Linked DNA regions of Homo sapiens. The gene in region 2 interacts genetically with the main gene of each other region. Each region holds a gene or a part of one and is shown on either strand. Other genes may lie near its edges.

What was found. Genes that interact genetically often act in the same process or in processes that back each other up.
Region 1: changes in EMG1 (region 2) and WDR7 together harm fitness less than expected from each alone (positive genetic interaction), as found in Homo sapiens cells (one large-scale study listed by BioGRID).

The regions. Positions count from the first base shown.
Region 1 is NC_000018.10:57,027,826-57,030,292, reverse strand, and holds the end of WDR7 (WD repeat-containing protein 7), read right to left. Parts: 3' UTR 501-2,467; downstream 1-500.
Region 2 is NC_000012.12:6,973,913-6,977,174, reverse strand, and holds part of EMG1 (ribosomal RNA small subunit methyltransferase NEP1), read right to left. Parts: intron 2,837-3,262; coding exon 2,735-2,836; intron 2,624-2,734; coding exon 2,482-2,623; intron 2,086-2,481; coding exon 2,027-2,085; intron 1,947-2,026; coding exon 1,797-1,946; intron 1,480-1,796; coding exon 1,366-1,479; 3' UTR 30-1,365; coding exon of another isoform or gene 1-29. Other genes in the region: LPCAT3 (lysophospholipid acyltransferase 5), read left to right, coding at 1-29. UniProt on the Homo sapiens protein: S-adenosyl-L-methionine-dependent pseudouridine N(1)-methyltransferase that methylates pseudouridine at position 1248 (Psi1248) in 18S rRNA.

The sequences.
Region 1 (2,467 bases), on a different chromosome or scaffold from region 2:
GAGACAAGAAGTACATTCACTACTTACACATAACCCTCTATGAGCAGTAAGGACCTATTTTATTATTCTTGATTTTTCTGAAAACCAATTATACCCTTTACCTGAGGGATTCAAATTCGACTCCAAACTGAGCGTGAAATGCAATGAACTTGATGATCTCAGCCTAGCTCCCGAGAGGCAGCCAACCCATGCCATCCAATCTGACAAGATATGATTTGGTGCCATTACCAGTCTATTTGGGAGCATGTAGAGTAGAGATAAAGCAACAGGCATGCAACGCCTTTCCCAAACCACAGAGAGTGCCAGTGAGTTTCTGGAGGGAGAGCTTACCTCTGCACTTCTGCTCTACTGTCCTCTGGGAATAAGTTGCCTTTCCCAAGCCAGCTCTCCAGGGAAATGAATGATTAGAAGCAGCAGGGCTAGCGGAGCATACGGATTTCAACTGAGGATGTTTAAGATGAGTGAACACTGGAAAAGGTAATATTGTGAGAAAAACAGTCTTCAATACAATTGTTTTATTTAACACACATATGTACACAGGAACATTCAGCACACATAGAGTCTATTAAGTGGAATCATTAAGAAATGTCTGGAGAGGCAGACATTTTAATTCACTCGCTGTACACAGGGAGTTCAATCATCACATTTTCATACAGGTGTCACGTCATGTCATCTTTTGCTTGTAAATTACCAATGAAGCCACATATGTCTCTACATATACAAGGACAGGTCCAAATACAGTGCCAGTGAAATCAATAAAACATTAAAGGTGTACGCTGGGATGACAATGCAGAGTTTACCTCAGTGCTGAGAAATCTAAGCTGGGATGAAGTTTGGGACTGTGGCTATTAAAATAGCCAAGGAGAGATTTATGTTAACAAGAATGCAGATATTAGTTTAGTAGTTAGAGATGACCGTCTAATCATCAAACATCGTCCACCCCAGGGTTTTGCAGCCATAGCTTTCTACTGGCCTTGGTTGCCTGTGCAGACGGAATACGTGAAAGGCCTACCCACGCTTGTGGCCCAGGGCTATTGCTCCTCTGGGCCCCCTGGCTTTGTTCTCAACCTTCGTGGCGGGGGGAGCCATCCGTGTGTTTGCGGCAGGCTGCCTACCACTCTCACACCTCTTTCCTGACACACAGAACATTTTTGTTAAAGAAAATGCTAAGGTATACATTTACCTCATCATTCCAAATAGAGATGTAGTCTACAATAAATTAATTTCCATTTAAGTTCATAAAGTAAACATATGTTGGGTATAGAGAAGACTCTGGACCCACTGGAAAACAAAGTGAGCCTTTTACCTTACATTTCTCTAGCTATGCCAAACACAACAGCACGTTCACCAAACAAATAAAGTCTAAACTGTATAGGTCTTTGTTTCTTCCTTGGAAACTACATATATAATCTTTATAAATACAATGTACATGCATGTGCCTAAATTCACTTTTGAAAGAATACCCAACTCTAAAACCAAGGAACAGTATAGATTTGCCGTCAATGGAAATAACATCATATCATTATGAAAGAGATGATCTAATGGTCTTAATTTCTTAATATGCTCTTTAAAAATCTGTTTCAGTGAAATAACCAATGTTTGTTCCTAGACTTTGATCCTACTTTTTTGTATATCAGATAAACTCTGACAACCTAAACTTTTAAGACTAAATTCTCCCATTATCATTTTGGTTCCTTTGTAAACTTCACATATTTTCTCTGAATTTAACAAATAATTTTCTATTTTTGCATGTAATAAATGATTTTGCCCAACTAACCAACCAATCAACAATTAGGCAACCAAACAACCCCTCACAAGTATATACAGATCAAGGTTTGTTAGAAACAATTCATACAAAATATAATTCTATTTTTTTCATTATTATGAGCTAGAACCAGCACAATCTGACATAAGAAGAAAGTGGTCTAGTTAAAGCTTACTTAGAAGCATAATGAACACCCTCATTGCAATGTTTGCTCAAATAAATCGAGAGCCCACATATTTTTATATACACTCCTGAACATTTGTGCCATAGTTATTACTTTTCCAGAATACTTGTTTAAAAGAAATACCTTATTAGCTTTCCTTTAGTTGATCAGTAGTAGTTTGAAGGCTGAATTATAATAATTTCATAACTGACATATGCCACACATATGGGAACTACAGGATTGCAAGTTTTCCGGGGGAAAGGGGTAAGCTCTTTCTTCAACAGGATCTGTAGCAGTAGATAGGAGAGTCTTCATTTTCGGTACACGCTATGCTTCTGAACTTGGCTCTTTATCACAAAAGTCCCTTCAAGAGATTAGTTACAGTGACTGGATAATTACATTAACTAGATCATAGGGAGTGATTATTTTTATTTTAAACTACTAAATAGACTATCATTTAAGCAAGAGATGAGCACTTCAGAAGGCTAAGTGTCTGGAAAACTATTTTCTACAAGGAAAATATTTTTGTGTACATAATT
Region 2 (3,262 bases):
GGAAAGAGAAGTTAAAGAAGATGGAATAATCCATTTCCCTGGTAAGTTAATACAGCTAAACTAAAACTACCACCAGGTTACAGAATAGAGCAACAGACTGGAAAAAAACAATAGTATTAGAAATCTGGGGTGAATTCCAAGGATTAGCCTGGCTACTAAGGAACACAGTATGGGCAATGACTACTGTGACTTATTGAGGCATGCTAGGAAACATCTGGAAGGGCTATAGACCAGGAATTACAGGAGTAACTAACCAGCCTTCCAAACTCCTCTTGTCTTGCAGGTGGCCTGTGCGGGACTGGTGCAGAAACTACTCGTCTCCCTTTTCACAGCACTCCTTTGCCCCAGAGCAGAGAATGGAAAAGCCAGGGAGGTGGAAGATCGATGCTTCCAGCTGTGCCTCTGCTGCCAGCCAAGTCTTCATTTGGGGCCAAAGGGGAAACTTTTTTTTGGAGAAGGCGTCTTGCTTTGTCACCCACGCTGGAATGCAGTGGCGGGATCTCAGCTCACCGCAACCTCCACCTCCTGGGTTCAAGTGATTTTCCTGCCTCAGCCTCCCAAGTAGCTGGGAATACAGGCACGCCACCATGCCCAGCTAATTTTTGTATTTTCAGTAGAAACGGGATTTCACCACGTTGGCCAGGCTGGTCTCGAACTCCTGACCGCAAGTGATCCACCCGCCTCCGCCTCCCAAAGTGCTGGGATTACAGGCGTGAGCCACCGTGCCCGGCCCAAAGGGGAAACTCTTGTGGGAGGAGCAGAGGGGCTCACATCTCCCCTCTGATTCCCCCATGCACATTGCCTTATCTCTCCCCATCTAGCCAGGAATCTATTGTGTTTTTCTTCTGCCAATTTACTATGATTGTGTATGTGCCGCTACCACCACCCCCCCCATGGGGGGGTGGAGAGGGGTGCAAGGCCCTGCCTGCTCCACTTTTTCTACCTTGGAACTGTATTAGATAAAATCACTTCTGTTTGTTCAGTTTTTCACCACTAGCATTCCTGACTGCTCTCTTTCACAGTTCTTCTCCATCATCAGGGTTCTCTCCTTTAGCACATGGGAATCTGGGAGCTAAAGCCTGCCTTCAAAGCATGGAACCAAACTGCAAACTCTGTAACCTCCTATCTGTCCCTGAAGTCCCGGGGAACAAACAGTTTTACACCACTGGATACTTTAGGAACCCCAAAACAACCAGGTTTGCAAGAACAGTATTCATAGGATAAACAAATAGCAAATGTACAGCCTTGGCTTCCCCAAACTCCACAGTCTCAGTGCAGAAAGATCATCTTCCAGCAGTCAGCTCAGACCAGGGTCAAAGGATGTGACATCAACAGTTTCTGGTTTCAGAACAGGTTCTACTACTGTCAAATGACCCCCCATACTTCCTCAAAGGCTGTGGTAAGTTTTGCACAGGTGAGGGCAGCAGAAAGGGGGTAGTTACTGATGGACACCATCTTCTCTGTATACTCCACACTGACCTAAGAAAAGAACAGTTTTGTCAGCCAACTCTGTCACTCAGTAGCTGTTTCAGCCCTTCTTTAGGGCAGGAAAACTATGGCTGAGCTAGTATTTCAGCTGTGCTGTTGAATATCAAATCCCTACAAAGGATGAAGAAGGTCCTAACTGTGACTTCCAATTATGGCAGCAGCCCTCAAAGGATGTGCCCTGGGGCAGGGTGTGGAACTGTCATGTGTCTTCTAGCTCATTGTAAGCATTGTTAAAATGCCTACTGCTCTGGGAATTCTATACTAAGTTCAGCTCTACCAAGAATTTCAGGGTTGAGCCCAGACCTTACCTTGCCATGGGCAAAGGCCCCTACCACAAAAACAATAGGATCACTGCTGGGCACCAGCTCACGCACATCACTGACAACCGGGATGGAAAAAGAAGTGCCAACTTTCATACATCCAACTGGAAAGTGATCTGATACTGGATTCTTAATTACCTAAAGTAAAAAAGAGAGAAAAGTCAGCCCCAGAAACATTCCCAGAACCAGCCTTCAACTAACAGGTTTCAATACCTCACCTTCAAAAGCTTCTGGGGGCCATCAGCTGCTCGAACACTGAGCTTGTGTAAAAGTTGAACTAGAAGGGGGAAAAAAGAGTTCAGAGCTAGATGGAGACCACAGTCCTTCTGTCCAGTCATCGAACAAGGAAAACCCCATGGATAAGATGAGTTCCCTGTGTGCTTTATATCTAGACTGGACTCCTGAAATGTTAGGAACAAACAGTTGCCAAGCATATGGCTAGCTGTACAGTGATGGGTTCAGACTCCCTCTTTCACTCAGCCAGGAAGCTACTGCAAGAACAGGAGTGGAGTTTCCACAAACATAGAAAAATAATAACAGTCCTTGTCCTGGTATTAATCATGTTGTTCTCCCATTTTCTCGCTTAAAAATCCACATTTAGTTCTCCCTTTTCCTCTTCCTCCCTTCTTCCCTACTGACAAGTTCATTCTAACTTTGTTCTAAGGCTTCTTACCCATGAGGCCACAAAAGCGGTCAAAGGTTCTGGGAATTCGGGTCTGGGGATTCACTTCAATCAGAACATTCTTCTGTGTATGGATATAAACCTGTAGCAAGCCAGCTCGGTTCAGGGGACTATCCATCAGCATCAGCAAACTCTGAGCAAAGCAGAAACCGAGACATGGTTAAGGCTGAAGAGAGGCAGCACTCAGCTGCCAACCCTTCCATACAGAGGCTCAAAGGGTTGTGAGCACTGTCCCTGGAGTTACCTGGTGGGTGATATCTGGCCGCGCTTCCCCAGGGTCCCGTCCATTCTTCAACAATATAGACTTGTGCTTGTCACAGTTGAGTAGCTCATATGTCTTCCCTACCTGAAGAACAGGGAACATGACGAGAGAACAGCATAAGCTTCTGTTACCTAGCCCCGTGGTTCTTCAAGTGTGGTCCCCAAACTACCAGCAGCAGCTGCACCTGGAAACTTGTTAGGCAAATTCTCAGGCCCACCCTAGACCTACTAAACCAGGAACACTGGGGGTGGAGCCCAGCAAGCCCTTCGGGGGATTACTGTGCAGCCTTATTTGCACTCCCCAGTGAATGGTCTGAGAGGGAAACAGGAGGAAGGGCACAACCTGTGACTTCACATTATCTACTAATACACTGGATTTAATTAAAAAACCTGTGGCTGTTAGGCAAGGCCAATGAGACATCCTGGAACTAGGCAGGAGTTAGTAGTTAGCAAGGCTGAATGCTGTGTTTATTACAGGAGCAGTAAGTAGGTACTGTGCAAAATATCGAGT